Linked DNA regions of Homo sapiens. The protein of the gene in region 1 interacts with the protein of each later gene in a pairwise test. Each region holds a gene or a part of one and is shown in the gene's direction. Other genes may lie near its edges. The genes, in order: NPAS2, ZSCAN1, CRY2 and RORC.

What was found.
Region 2: the proteins of NPAS2 (region 1) and ZSCAN1 interact in a two-hybrid assay, tested with the Homo sapiens proteins (one large-scale study listed by BioGRID and IntAct).
Region 3: the proteins of NPAS2 (region 1) and CRY2 interact in a two-hybrid assay, tested with the Homo sapiens proteins (one study listed by BioGRID).
Region 4: the proteins of NPAS2 (region 1) and RORC interact in a two-hybrid assay, tested with the Homo sapiens proteins (one study listed by BioGRID and IntAct).

Annotation. Positions count from the first base shown.
Region 1 is NC_000002.12:100,962,721-100,966,638, forward strand, and holds part of NPAS2 (neuronal PAS domain-containing protein 2), read left to right. Parts: intron 1-1,337; coding exon 1,338-1,456; intron 1,457-2,140; coding exon 2,141-2,223; intron 2,224-2,939; coding exon 2,940-3,046; intron 3,047-3,918. UniProt on the Homo sapiens protein: Transcriptional activator which forms a core component of the circadian clock.
Region 2 is NC_000019.10:58,036,678-58,040,595, forward strand, and holds part of ZSCAN1 (zinc finger and SCAN domain-containing protein 1), read left to right. Parts: intron 1-1,050; coding exon of another isoform or gene 1,051-1,159; coding exon 1,160-1,529; intron 1,530-3,772; coding exon 3,773-3,867; intron 3,868-3,918. UniProt on the Homo sapiens protein: May be involved in transcriptional regulation.
Region 3 is NC_000011.10:45,880,726-45,883,778, forward strand, and holds the end of CRY2 (cryptochrome-2), read left to right. Parts: intron 1-188; 3' UTR 189-2,519; downstream 2,520-3,053. UniProt on the Homo sapiens protein: Transcriptional repressor which forms a core component of the circadian clock.
Region 4 is NC_000001.11:151,825,084-151,829,001, reverse strand, and holds part of RORC (nuclear receptor ROR-gamma), read left to right. Parts: intron 1-2,905; exon of another isoform or gene 2,906-3,065; coding exon of another isoform or gene 3,066-3,072; intron 3,073-3,918. UniProt on the Homo sapiens protein: Nuclear receptor that binds DNA as a monomer to ROR response elements (RORE) containing a single core motif half-site 5'-AGGTCA-3' preceded by a short A-T-rich sequence.

The DNA of each region.
Region 1 (3,918 bases):
CATCTAAAAGTAACTAACTTTTTCTCTGGCCCAGAAGGTCAGTCCGTTCTCCACAGTTGCCCTGGAGGCAGGGACCAAGTCCCACAGAGAAGACTCTGCCGAGGCTACTGCAGGTGTGAGACGGCATCATGATGTGGGCCCATGGCTGTGGGCCTAGGACAGTCCCCCCTCTGCCCTGTTAGAACCCTGGGCCTAGAGCCCAAAAACTTGATGGCATCCCTGCTGTTATTTCTGAGTGACCGTGGTTAATTATAGAACCATTCCGGGCCTAGGACAGTAATGCCCTCCTAGATGTTTGAGAAGATGTAAGAAGATGCGTGAGAGCAGATTTTGTCACCTGGGCCACACTAGGGAACTAGCAAGTTTTGTTGTAGGCGTTGTGTTCCTCTGGGGGTGACCCCTAAATCCTGAGCCCTGTCTCCTCAGTGGCCCAGACCCAACCCCTGTATCAGCCTGGGCTCCCAAGGGGGAGTTTCAGGACAGAGGCCCTTGAACCCCAGGTATGCCAGCCAAGACAGGGGCAGGGAAGGGGGTGTCAATGATGCCGAGACACCCCTACTTTCCCTGGGACCATCAGTATCAGGAACACTGATTATAGAATTCACCTTAAAACACTGGCTGGAGTATTCAAACCGTTACTGCAGAATGAGGCTGTCTTCTCTTTTTTTTGTTTGTTTTGTTTTGTTTTGTTTTGTTTTGTTTGGAGACAGAGTCTTACTGTGTCACCCAGGCTGGAGTGCAGTGGTGCTAACTTGGCTCATTGCAACCTCCGCCTCCCAGGTTCAAGTGATTCTCAGCCTCCCAAGCAGTTGGGATTACAGGCACACACCACCATGCCCAGCTAATTTTTGTTTTTGTTTGTTTGTTTGTTTTTTAGTAGAGATGGGGTTTCACAGTGTTGGCCATGGTGGTCTCGAACTTCTGGCCTCAAGTGATCTTCCCGCCTCAGCCTCCCAAAGTGCTGGGATTACAGGCGTGAGCCACTGTGCCTGGCCTGTGTTCTCATTTTGTAGACTATTTTTCCCAGCATTATAAGCCATAGGGCTAGTGGAAGTGAGAGGCAGTGCTGAATGCTGGTGACCAGCATGGGCTCAAATCCCAGCTCTAGCAAGCTTTTTGGTCTTGCACAAGTTACTTCCCTCTGTTCCTCGGTTTCCTCTTTTTGCAATGGGAATAATAGTTGACCTACCTCATCCAGTTGTGAAAATGAAATGAGTTAATATACTCTACATAAACCCTGGGGGCAGCGCTTGGCTTACAGTTAAGTGCCAACTAGGGATTGGCTGCTGTCACCAGACAGGGCTAACCTATGTGTCCTCTTCTTCCCAACCCCCCAGTGCCTAGCCCCTCCTGTAATGGTTTTGACAACACCCTTTCAAGACCTTGCCGGGTGCCACTAGGAAAGGAGGTTTGCTTCATTGCCACCGTTCGTCTGGCAACACCACAATTCTTAAAGGCAAGTACCTGAGAGGCAGTTCATTGTGCGGAGCTGTTATGATTGACTCACATTTTGTTATATGTAATTAATGGTCTTTTGGGAGGGAATAAATTGCAGTGAAGTTGTCACTGGCTTTGAAAATCGAAGTGTCTGGCTTCTGTGCCTGCACACACGCCCTTTCCCCTGCCCCGTTTCCTGCAAGTGGTTCTCTTTGAAGGCAGCATCGCTTGCTGTTCAGCCCGCAGAAGTGCTGTCTGATAACTGTAAATCTTCCCACCTTTCACACCGGCGTTAATACCATGCAGGCCAGGCCTGGGTGAGAACCGAGTGTTGGAGCGCTGGGGGTTTGTCTGCCTTCTCTCATCTGTGATTGCTTCAACATCGATGGCATGAATGTTGAGTTAAATGAGTAATTCAGATTCCGATGAAAAGCCATTTTCCACATGTTTGCCACTTCTCGATAATGGGAAGGGATGGTGTGACATTCTGGCTCCTAGGTATTTTTCCCTAGCTTGTGAAATAAATTTAGTATCAGCTAATACCGAAATTAGCTACAGATGATGAGTTTCAGTCCAACACGACTTGGAGACTTGCTCGAAATGATTTTAACTTCTGTTACCCACCACGCGTTCCTCTTGAACAAACCTAGGGTGAGCATCTGGCACCCAAGCAACTTTTTTTTTTTTTCTGCTTCCAATACAGGAAATGTGCATAGTTGACGAACCTTTAGAGGAATTCACTTCAAGGCATAGCTTGGAATGGAAATTTTTATTTCTGGATCACAGGTTTGAGAAAAGAAAAACATATTTGGGTTGGGCCCTTCTCAAGTCTTGTTTGCGTGAGCCAGGCTCTCCTTGGGAGAGAAGAGTCGGCCCTGGTCCATTGAAAGAGGAGGACTCTCTGGCACTAGGAAAAGTCGTCCCTGCCAAGGGTGGGTGGTTTCCCTCCAACTTCATCTGCCCCATCGTGAATATGTTCTGTGTTTGGGTCTGATGGCTCAGCCCCGGGCCATCTTTGGGATGATCCTCACTTGAGGCCCTTCCCGGCTCCCAGTAAGGCAGCAGCAAGTGTGAGAGAAATCTCTCATCTCATTTTTTTCAACATCCTTTGATCTTTTAGCCCAATCTTTACTGTTTCTTTTGTAACATTATTTGCAGTTGAAGAACTCCAAATCTCCCCTCCCCACCCTTTAATTTATATTACACTTTGGTGTTGGGCTGATCCAATTTGTAGCTGTTTTTAATTACCCAGTAGTGATAAAGCTTATTGTTATTTGGGCCAAGTTATGCCAAGGGAAAGGAGTATCTATATGCCAAAAAAAAAAGCTGAGCCCTTTGGAAAACACAGCCTCTCTGATTTTGACCATTACAAAGTTATTTTTCTCCCCTTGTTCTTGAGAAATGAGGCCTCCATGTTGATCATTATGGAAAGGCATGGCCACCAGGGTGAGCCCTGCAGGGTGTCTCCTCCCTGATGACAAGTCCTCCTTGTCCTTGTGCAGAGCACCTCCAATCATAGGATACCTGCCTTTTGAAGTGCTGGGAACCTCAGGCTATGACTACTACCACATTGATGACCTGGAGCTCCTGGCCAGGTGTCACCAGCACCGTGAGTACCACTGCCCAGCCCAGGCATGGGGGCCTTGCGTTCACTCCACTGGGGCCCAGCAGCAGGGCTCTGGGACTCCAGAAGCCTCTGCTCGTTACCTGGTTTCTTTTTAAGGTGAGGAACTTGGTTTTCTCTGAGATGATCTGGGGGCATGGTGGAGGCCCCTTATCCGCGTCTACCCCCATGTCACTGGAATTCACTTGGCCCCAAACCCTAGCACCTTCCCACTGTCATCCAGATAGGCGCCCTGTTTAAACCTAATTAAGAAATTAAGGTGATGCAGGGATTTTTTTTTTTAAGTTATGCAATACATTTCAGAGATAAAATACCGAATTCTCATAACTGTTCTTTCATCAGCAGATAAGTATTGGTCACTAACCATAGGCCAGATACTGAGTAGGCTGGCATATGGGGATGATCAGTACCTACTTGCTGTCCCGCAGGGCAGGTCTTCTGGGAAAGCCAGAAATGGGTGACTTTGTGGGATGTGGTCGGTGCATTGAAGGGGATGTACACAGCATACTGGGGGACTCAAGAGGACCCTCACAGCTGGGGTTCAGGGAAGGCTCTTTGCCACATACGAGGCGAACACATTAGCAAATGTATGGGGGATGGGACTTACGATGTGGGGGAGTGAGAATTACAAGCTTGTCCGAGTTCTCACTTAGCAAGTGGTTTCAAGAATTAACCACTTACAGCTGTATTTTCAGTGCCAACTCTTAACTTGAAATAGGAACACTGACCTATTGATCCTAATGCATGAATCGACCACTAACATTGTGCTTTAAAAGATGCCTCACCTGTAGTACCCATTAGAACTTTTTTTTTTTTTTTTTTTTTTGAGACAGACAGATTCTCGCTCTGTCACCCAG
Region 2 (3,918 bases), on another chromosome or scaffold:
ACTCATTTTTGGTTATTTATTTTTTTTGGGATGGAATCTCACGCTGTCACTCAGGCTGGAGTACAGTGGTGCGATCTTGGCTTACTGCAACCTCTGTTTCCTGGGTTGGAGCAATTCTCCTGCCTCAGCCTCCCACGTAGCTGGGATTAGAGGTGTGCACCACCACGCCGGCTAATTTTTGTATTTTTAGTAGACGGGGTTTCGCCATGTCGGTCAGGCTGGTCTTGAACTGCTGACTTCAGGTGATCCACCCACCCGGGCCTCCCAAAGTGCTGGGATTACAGGTGTGAGCCACGGCACCCGGCCACAAAAGGTTATTTTAAAATTACTCTTCCCACTTTCCCTCTCTTTTCAGAGTCTCCAGTCTCCCTTGCCCTCTTCCTGGTCTCCACCCCCAGCTTGGACCTGGTAGGAAAGTCAGGAAGACAGCAAAGATAACACCATGGGTAGACCTGCTGCTGGTGGTGGTGTCATCCATTATTATGTAGCCCACCTGGCTGCTTCCATTTAAATGGAATTTAAATTTAAAATTCAGTTCCTATTTCAGGTGCTCCTAGCCACACGTAGGTGGTTGCATGGGTAGAGAATCTTTACATCCCTGTAGGAACTTCACTGGGCAGTGCTGGCCACACCACGGGGCAGGCATTCTTGTTCCCGCAGCTCGTCAGTCAATGTGTGTTGAATGACTAAATGAGAGGGAGATAGACACTAAGTAAGGGGAAAAGTTGTGTTCAGAAAGTCATGGAGGTTATGAAGACAGTGCCATAAGGATGATGGCCAGGACATCTGCGAGGGGAGGAGCTGGGGTGGGAAGGGGAGGGGCTGGGGTGGGATGGCAGGTGCAAAGGTCCTGGGGCAGCCAGTGGCTTGAACTCAGTGCAAAGTAGCCTGTGAGAGGCATGTGGAAGATTAGGTCAGAAGGTGGGAAGAGGTCAGGTTGGTTCCTTGGGGTGCTGGAGGTCAGAACAAGGAAGTAAGGAGCCGAGGGGCATCCTGAGTACAGAGGGCCACCATCTGATGTGACCCCTCTGTCCCTGCCCCTCTCTGCAGGCCCCTGATTGCTGATTCTGTCCGCCTGCCACACCGGCTCTGTCCGGAGCCACTGGGACTCGGGATCCAGTCCACACACACCCCTCAGAGGGGCACTGTGGCCAGAGAAATGCTTCCACGGCCCAAAGCCCCTGCCTCCCCCAGACGCCCCCAGACCCCAACCCCGAGTGAGCAGGACGCAGACCCTGGGCCAGCAAGCCCCAGGGACACCGAAGCCCAGCGTCTGCGCTTCCGGCAGTTCCAGTACCACGTGGCGAGCGGGCCGCACCTCGCGCTGGGCCAGCTCTGGACGCTGTGCCGCCAGTGGCTGAGGCCCGAGGCGCGCTCCAAGGAGCAGATGCTGGAGCTGCTGGTGCTGGAGCAGTTCCTGGGCGCGCTGCCCAGCAAGATGCGGACCTGGGTGCAGTCACAGGGCCCCCGAAGCTGCAGGGAGGCCGCCAGCCTGGTGGAGGACCTCACACAGATGTGCCAGCAGGAAGGTGAGAGGCGCAGGCTTCCTGCCCCGGGCCGGGCCAGGGGGCCTGACGTCTCCGAGGACCGAACTGCCCTCCTTCCCGCCCACATCGCTCCCACCCCTGCCCGGCCCCTCCCGACCAGCAAACCTCTCCTGCCCCGCGGCTGTGTTTTTAATTATTTTTACATATAAATGTGCTGCACGCCTCATCTGCCTCGAATTTCTCACTCAGTCGGTGATTAAAGATCCCTCCATTTCCCATGCGTCCATCTGTCCTGTGGCTTTGTGTCTGCTGCTCCTCACGGCTGCTCTCTGGGAAGGACGCTGCCTCGCCACTTCCTCCCAGCCACCTGCAGCGCCTCCTGCAACACTCAGGAATCCTAGAGATCCTTAAGCCTTCACAGGGCGCAGGCCCCATCGCTGGCTGATGGTGGGGAGAGACGCTTAGGTCTGCATCCCGACTCTGGGAGCTGGGAAATTTGGGGTTGAAACTGGGCTCCCTCCCTGTCTCCTCTCTCAGCTCCCCTCTCCCCTGACAGGGCTTTGTCCTTCTGCATCTTTGCCCCTGTGACCCCACGTCGAGATTCCATCCACCCAGGGCCCAGTCCCATGAGTGGGGCTCTTTCTTTCCTAGTGACAAAAGTGCAGGGATTGGACACTGGGAGGCCAAAAGAGGCAGCCACGGATGGTGAGAGCAGTCGTGGCACTGTGGCCTCGGGAGGGCTTCCCCAGCAGGGCCCCAGCAAGGAGGGTGCCAGGCAGCCACGCTGCAGGAGCAAAGGCTGGGAGTGAGAAGGGTTGCATCAGAGCTCACAGAAAAGAGGGGTGGAGCAAGGGAGAGGAACAGGCCCTCCCTTTGCACCCTCCCACTACAGCATTTCCGTAGACCAACAGTGATAAGCAGTTTGCAGAACACAGGGTCCAGGGTCCCCTTACTGCCCCAGGGCAGCCGGTGCCACACTTAGGAAAGCTGTGACAGCTGAGCTTTCCAGAGGCTCAAGGGTAGCCCTGTAAGCTGCAAGGCAGAAGCCAGATGAATTGGCCCTTTGAACTCTCTGATCCTGGGGTAGAGGGCCCAAGAGCACTGGCTTCTGGCGCTCTGTGGACCTCACAGCCATCCCAGCCCAGAGCCACCCTTGCTAGTTTTAATGTTCCATGGTCACTCTCAAAATTCAACGTTTTTGAGCAAAGGGCTCTCTATCTGTCTTCCATAGCGGTGGTCTGCTTTCTACATTCCATATTTTGAGCCTATGAAACAGTAGAGCAAGTATAATGAACAGCCCTGCACCGGCCACCCACCCTTATCAAAGCCCAACCTAGGAAATGCTTTGTAATCTCAGCACTTTGGGAGGCCAAGGCAGGCGGATCACAAGGCAGGAGTTCGAGACTAGCCTGGCCAACATGGTGAAACTCCGTCTCTACTAAAAATACAAAAATTAGCCGGGCGTGGTGGCGCGTGCCTATATTATATCCCAGCTACTCAGGAAGCTGAGGCAGGAGAATCGCTTGAACCCAGGAGGCGGAGCTTGCAGTGAGCCAAGATCACGCCACTGCACTGCAGCCTGGGCGACAGAGCGAGACTCCGTCTCAAAAAAAAAAAAAAAAAAAAAAGGAACAACCAGTGGAATCAGCTGAACCCCCATGCACGTCTCCTAGTCCTGTTGTCCCCCGCTCTGCCTGACACCCCAGAGGTGGCCGTGATCTTGAATTTTTCTTTTTTTAATTAAAAAATAAATAGGGGGGGGTCTTGCTGTGTTGCCCAGGCTGCTCTCAAACTCTTGGGCTCAAGCAGTCCTCCTGCCTCAGCCTCCCAAAGTGCTGGGATTACTGGTGTGAGCCACCACGCCTGGCCTGGTTCCCACGTCTTGACCCTTCTGTCAATGGTGTCCTGAACCCTGCTTCAGCAGTCGTCCTCTGTGCACTCTGTGCACACAGCCCCGGGGGGCTTGGGGAGCAGAGGGCTCACAGTGCTCGGGCCTCCCTAGTTAGTCAGTGCTGCAGTGTGTGTCCTCGTGGGCTTCTGGAGGCGCACAGGGGTGTGGAGTATGAGTGAAGAGGGTACTTGTCTTCAGCGGCCCTCGGTGTCACCACAGGTTCCTGCCCAGCAGCCACATGGAGGGACAGAATGACAGCCCTGCAGCCACTCTTGCCTGCGCCTCAGGGGTGCTGCAGGGATGTTCGGGGAAAGTCTGCCCTCCCCAGAAGGCCTGGAGAATTGGGGGCTCTGGGAAGAACAGGCCCCTCTCACGATCCCTTTCTCCCGCACAGTTCTGGTATCTCTGGACTCGGTCGAACCCCAGGACTGGAGTTTCGGTGAGGAGGAAGATGGGAAGAGTCCAAGGTCCCAGAAAGAACCATCGCAGGTGAGCCCGGGGCCCCCAGCTCCGTGCTCCTGCACCCCAGGGCATGCGTGC
Region 3 (3,053 bases), on another chromosome or scaffold:
ATTCCCTCATCCCAGTGGCATCCCAGCAACAACCTGTCCCCAGGTACCGTGGCCCTTTCAGCTCACTCTTTCAGCTCTTCTCAGGTCCCGCTCTGAATGTCCCCAGAGAAGCAGCCAGAGGAGCTTGTGTCCCTGGGCAACTGAGCAGCCTCCTGAATGCTCCTTTTGCACTTGTTTTTCTCTTCCAGCTGCAGAGCCCTTGCTCCGTGAGCAAAGCCTGGGTGCCCAAGCAGCCACCGCAGCAGCAGAGTACAACCTGCAGAGAAGCTGATCACCGGGCAGAGATAGAGCGAGCATGTGTGTGTGTGTGCGCGTGTGCAGAGGAGGGAGTGGTGTGCCTGTTTGTGTGTGCATGCATCTGTTGACACTCATGATTCTGAATGTTGCCTGGGCTGGGGGAGTACCTGTAGCACGCCAGTGCTGTTTCCCGGCCTCCAGACACAAGGCTCGAGGTTATGGCAGTGACTTTCAGCTGAGACCTGTTCCTGCAAGCCAGCTGCCTTGTCTGAACAGAACGTAGTGGTAGGACCCTAGCTGGGATTCTGGCATCTGCCTCCCTAGACCTCCTTCCCTCCCTCCTCACGTCAGGCTGTGGAGCAGGAGCACAGCAGTTCTGGCTGTTGTCCAAAGCATGGGATTCTGGAGGCAGCCAGAGCCCTGCTGAGTTCCTGCTTTCTGACCTGGAGGCTGAGCAGGCCGGAGTGGATGGATGCTGTCCAGACGTAGCCACCTGGCCTCTGTTTCTTATTTTAAAATTCTCTGCTACTGGGCTCAGTCCCAGGCCCTTCCTTGGGCTTCTGGGACTGAGCATGAGGCCATAGACAGATCTAAAAAGTTTCCACCACCCTACAGAAGTACACACAGATACCTGACTGGTGTGGGGTATGCCTGGTACTGTAATAGGAGCCTAAGACAGCACACCTACCTTTTCAGGATTTAGAACCTAAAATTAGAAAGAGAATCCCAGCTGTCATTGTTCCTTCCCCAGAAGCTAAGAGCCAGCCTCAGAGCCTACCCAGGAGCTGTGAAGGGGCAAGGGTCAAACTGACTCACTCTACCAGGAGGAGACCAGGTTGCAGTGGCGTAAGGCCCCCTGGTTTCTCTGGCCACACTCCAAGGCACCACAGTGCTGCCAGTGAGGACAGCTGACACCCAGCCAGGGAAACCATTCTAGTCTTTATTCTGTTGGCTTCCAGGGCCTGTCCTGGACTTGTCAGCATCCAGACTGCCATGTCAGCTATCCCAGTAGCTGAGCTCCAAGGACTCAGGCAGAGGGACTCAGGGATGGGGACTGCCAGGGGCAGTTGGCAAAAGTCCAAGTAGAGATTACACCCAGAACACCATTCCTTCCAGGAGCAGTAGGTGGGAGGTTTGACCCAGAGAAGCCAATCCTTGCATTCCAGGAGTGGCCTGTGCCTCCCACCTCTTCCTTCCCACTGCCAAAGGCCTGTGTTGAGAAAGATGTCATGCAAAAGGACGACGGTGGCCAACTAAAGCAAGTCTTCCTTCCACCCTGTGGCCTGCACTTGAGCCACAAAGTGTGTGTGTGTGTGTGCGTGTGTGGTACGTGTGTGTGTGTGTGGCTATGAGGCTGATTCCTGTTTGGATTTTTGTCCTCACGTGTATCATTAAGCTGGCCTTTGGGCCTTTTCCTTTCTACCTCCCCTGTGACCTTTCCTAGCCTCAGATCTGTTAATTCTTTTGGCCCCAGCCCTGTCCCTCACTGTCCTCTGTCCTTGGACCAGAACCCTGGGGTCAGACCCATCTCCTGTAGCTGTCCATCACACTGACAGGCTTCTTCCTGAGATATCCTCAGGTTTTCTCAGCCAGAGAGCTGCCTTTAGAGTCCAACTGTTGTACGTATGTCACCTTCACTAGAAATGTCCCATCATCGTGGGAGGGGAGCAGGGCACAGGGGATGGTGTGCATTCAGAGCATTGGGTTGGGGGCTTCCCTGTTCCCTCAGCCCCAGTCGAGAGGAAAGAGAATCGGGCCACTGCCAGAAAGAGAGTCAAGCAAACCTGGAAGGGCAAATCTGAGAGTGGGAAGGCCAAAGGCCGAGGCCCAGATTTAGTATTCACTAGCAGCGCCTTCGGGTAGCAGGATGATTCCTTTTCCTGCCTGTCTGCTGCTGGCTCTCTTCCCTAAGGTACAGGTTGGCAGGACCACCTCCGCCTACTTCTCCACCATCCCTAGCATGTCAGCCCGTTCCCAGATCAACCTGCCAGTGGAGTCAGGCAGTGCACTCCTGGAGCCAAGAGGGAAGGGCAGGGTAGAGAGGGTATGTCCAGTAGCCTGGAGCTCCATGGTGGCTTCATGCCTCCCTTCTCCCAGCTCAGGTGGCCCTGAGGGCTCCCTCGGAACAGTGCCTCAAATCCTGACCCAAGGGCCAGCATGGGGAAGAGATGGTTGCAGGCAAAATGCACTTTATAGAGATTTTCTATTGCTGGGAAGGTGTGTTTCTCCCACAATTTGTTTGTGAATATTCACTTGTTTTATAAATGTCTGACCTGTCTTGAGTAAGTTTGTGCTGTCGTCAATCTTGTGGGAGGCCTGGGAACCAGGGTTTTGGTAAGCCTGAGCCTGAATGAAGCTGTCGGCCACCCCATCTTGGTTCTGTGGGAGTCAGGAGCCTCCTATTCCTCCTTAGGAAGGGGGAGCAGCCAGAGCAGACTGGAGCAGCTTGGTCAAGAGTTGGTCCAGAGCTTGGTCAAGAGTTGGGGGTCAATTGGCCAAAATAGTACAGAGCACTCTGGCCCAGAGTGAGGGTCCTAAGTGCCATCCTGCAGTGCCACCCAGCCTTGCAGCCCACTTAAACCCCCTCCCAGGCTGGGGGTCAGTCAGTGCAGGGCCTGCTCCACGCCCTCAATCCATCCTTTAATTCAATGCAGCCACTTAAGCTGCAGCCTGTGGTGAGGAGGGGATGCAGGCTCTCTGGCTGTGACTAGGTGGTTGAGATCTGCCCACAGCCAAGCCTAGGGCGCCTGGATGCTGGCTTTGTCTCCTGGCCAGAGAATGGCCCCTCTCTGTGCAGTGTGCCCTGCTTCCATGCT
Region 4 (3,918 bases), on another chromosome or scaffold:
CCAGGCTTTTTTTTTTTTTTTTTGAGACAGAGTCTCACACTGTCGCCTGGGCGGGAGTACGATGGCACAATCTCGGCTCACTGCAACCTCCACCTCCCAGGTTCAAGCGATTCTCCTGCCTCAGCCTCTCGAGTAGCTGGGACTACAGGCACCCACCACCACGCCTGGCTAATTTTTGTATTTTTAGTAGAGACGGGGTTTCACCATGTTGGTCAGGCTGGTCTCAGACTCTTGACCTTGTGATCCACCCCTCTCGGCCTCCCAAAGTGCTGAGATTACAGGCATGGGCCACTGTGCCCAGCCTGCACCAAGCTCTGTGGTCCTGAGCCAGGTTTGGTGTTCATCTCTGTGGTTAACACATCCTGAGGTGTGAACAAGCCTGGAGCCAGCCTGTGCAGGACTAGAGAGCAGGAGAGCTTTATCTCTGTAGGAAACAGAATGGACAGGGGCACTCTGTGTCCTGGGGCCCTGAAAGCCAGACTACAGCAGGTAAGAAGGGCACTAGAGCTCAGAGAGGACTTCCCAGTGGACGCTAGTGAATAAGAATCCTCTCTAGGGACCACTCAGCACATCAGCTCTCCTCTCCTAGTTTGTGGCAAAGGCTAGTCCCCCAGAGAATGCACACAGTCCCAAAGCTATGCCCATCAGGGCCATGCGTGCCCTTCTGTGAGCATGGGTCCCTGAATCGAGAGGATCCCTCCAGGGTAGGAGTGGCCACACCATTTCTCCATAGCCGTCCCTTGACTGCCTTGCCAGTTCCTCCTGAGAGCTCACTGCCATCTCGCCCAATGCCAAAATTGTCTAGAGCCTCCCTGTTCCAAGTAGAGACATCTCAGAGAGCAAAGCATTGCCCTTCTCCATGAGCTGGGCAGCCCAGGGCTGAGGGCCATCCAGGATGCTACCTCCTCCTGGGTGGGGGTTGCTTTGCTCAGCATAATCCTGATCAGTGTCTCGCCTGCCCCTAGCCACAGGGCCCCACGGAAATGCTGAGCAGGGCCCCGGGAGGAAAGCGGGTCAGGGAGTGACGCGGGTGAGCTGGGGGAGGGGGGTCACGGACCTTATGTGGGTGGGGGGAGTAGGGGGACTTTCGGAGCAGCAGGAACTGGGAGAGGTCAAACCCTATTCCTACCCTTAACCCCTGACCTCAGAAACCTCAGCCAGGACTATACCTCCTTATCCCTTTCCCATCCCACCAGTCCTCGTGTCCCCACCCCAAGAGTGTTGTCCTGAGGATCCAGGCTGACAGCCTCTCCCCCACTCCACGGCCCAGCTCCTGAAGCCCCAGGAAGGCCCAGGAAGGCAAGGAAAGGCCTGTGCCTGGATGAGAGGGTCTGGAGTCCCAGCAAGATCAGACACCTCTCAGGAGTTTGCCCCACAGAATCCAGGAGACATTAAGGCCTCCCCCAGGCCGAGAGACTCTGAAAATTGGCTCCTGAATTGAGACAACCCCAAGATGGGGGTCCAAGATGGGGAACCCGGGGGAACTCCCCAGACCAAGAGGGAGCCTGAATACTGAGGGGCCCTGAAGAGGGACTCTCAAAGCCAATGTACCCCACAAAGCACCTAAGAGGCTGAGAAGGTCTCTGGAATTGTTTGGCCCCTGAGAAGGACCCCCCTCCCCCAGGCCAAAAAACACTCCAGAGAGACTCACATACCGAGGGACCTCCCAGGCTGAGACACCCTCAAAAGCAGACTTGAACCAGAGAAACCCTCCCATCCTTCAAGTGGGATCCGAAGCCAGTCTGCCTGGGCTTGAATCCTGACTCTGCCACTTACTAGCTGTGTAACCTTGGGCAAGTTACTTAACCTCTCTGTGTCTCACTTTCCTCCTCGAAATGAGGATAATGGTAGCTACTTCATAAAGTTTTTTTATTTTTTCTTTTTGAGACAGAGTCTTACTCAGTTGCTCAGGCTGTAGTGCAGTGGCATTATCTCAGCTCACTGCAAACTCCGCCTCCCGGGTTCAAGCGATTCTCCTGCCTCAGCCCCCTGAGTAGCTGGGACTACAGGTGCTCGCCACCATGCCTGGCTAATTTTTGTATTTTTAGTAGAGATGGGGTTTCACCATGTTGGCCAGGCCGGTCTCGAACTCCTAACCTCAGGTGATCCACCCACCTTGGGCTCCCAAAGTGCTGGGATTACAGGCGTGAGCCACTGCCCCCGGCCCACATAAAGTATTTTGTGAGGATTAGATTATCCACATAAAACATCGAGAACCATTTCTGACACATAATAGTAAGCACTATTATTATGATTATGAGTATGATGATGGTGATGATGATCATTATCTACACTCCAATTTCAGCAGTTTGGCTCCTAAGGAAATTTCTGGTTTCCTTCTGTGGATTGTGGGTATTTGCCTGGTGATTATTACTGCTTCTATCATTTCCATGTATTCCCTAGCGCAAGATATATGTGGTGTCTGCAGGGAGGAGCGTGGGCATGGGAGTGGTGGGACAGCCCCCCAGGCTGCACCACACTGGGTATGGCTGTTGGCAGTCCACAGGGTGTCAGGTGGCACATGCCACCACCCCAGGCAGACATCCTGTGACTTACCTCTGAAAACATCCCTGTCCCTGAAGTCACCTGGCAAAGAGGGTCAGGCTTGGAAGGTCCTCGGGGGTAGGAGGAGTAGAAATTTGGCTTCAGGCTCGTGTGAGCTCCATTCTGGCTCCCCAGCCAGAACTACCCTGGCGGGTGGAAACAGCTTTTACCGCGTGTGGCTGTCGCATGTGGTTTTGGAATTTTCCAACGCCCCCTACGATTGGCTGCCCCTCCCCTCACACCCTGCCCCAGGCCCAGATTGGCCACGTGGGGCGCCTGTCATCCTACTCACTGCACCCCTTGGGGGTGGGGTGGGGGGTTGTCACTTGGCCACCTGTGTGGTGCAGAGCTTAAACCCCCCAGTCCAGAAGCACTGGGGGAGAGAGCTAGGTGCAGAGCTTCAGGCTGAGGCGCTGCTGAGAGGGCCTCGCCCCGCCTCTGCCGCCAGCTGCACCCCACTCCTGGACCACCCCCTGCTGAGAAGGACAGGGAGCCAAGGCCGGCAGAGCCAAGGCTCAGTCATGAGAAGTAAGTGAATGGGGCCACCTGGGGGCGGGGGAGCCTGGACCCTGTCGTCACCCCTCTGGAAAGGAGGATGTCTTGGGAACAGTGTGAGCAAATCTGAGCAAAGCAGGGTGCGTCCTGGTCAAGGTCAAGATCTGTTGGGAGATGGGTGGAGCAGCTGGGGAGTCCTGCTGGCCAGGCGGCTCCCTGACAGCAGCAATGGTAAGAGGACTGTTGAGGAATTCCTGAGTTCCAAAAAGAACCTCCAAAAGTATCTGAGGTATCCAGGCCCTTAATTTTACAAAAAGACTGAGAGCCAAGGAGGCCGCGTACTTGGCCCAATGTTACACAGCTGGTATCTGATGGGGGCTGGTAATTACTAGGGGCCCTGAACGCACTCTCCTGTTACAGTGTTTCCCTTGTTACGGTGTTTCCCTCTGTGCCTCCAGCCTGCTTGTGAGTAAAAGGAGGCCAGAGCAGTTGCTGTGCTCTGAAGCAACAGGACAGCGAGAGTCAACTGAGGTTGGCAGGCAGCAGGGCACAGAATCCCCGCGTCCAGGCCTCAAAGCCACCAGGCTTTCTGCCCAATCCAGGGACATGAGGACTATGTGGAATCCAGTCAGGGTGCACCCGGGCACATGCCTGCGTGTGTGTGCATGTGTGTGTGTGCGTGTGTGTGTGGGGTGTGTGTGTATGTGTGTGTGTGGTTCTCCAGGGTCAGTCACCCATTTGACCGGGGAAGCAAGGCAATGGAGATGGGATTGGAAAGACCTCGGCCTCACCCTTTTCCTGGCTTGGAGCCCTGGGCCAACAGTTGGTGGGCAGATGTCTGGGGTTCCTGTGCCTTCCAGCAGAGCAAGGGTGGGCAAC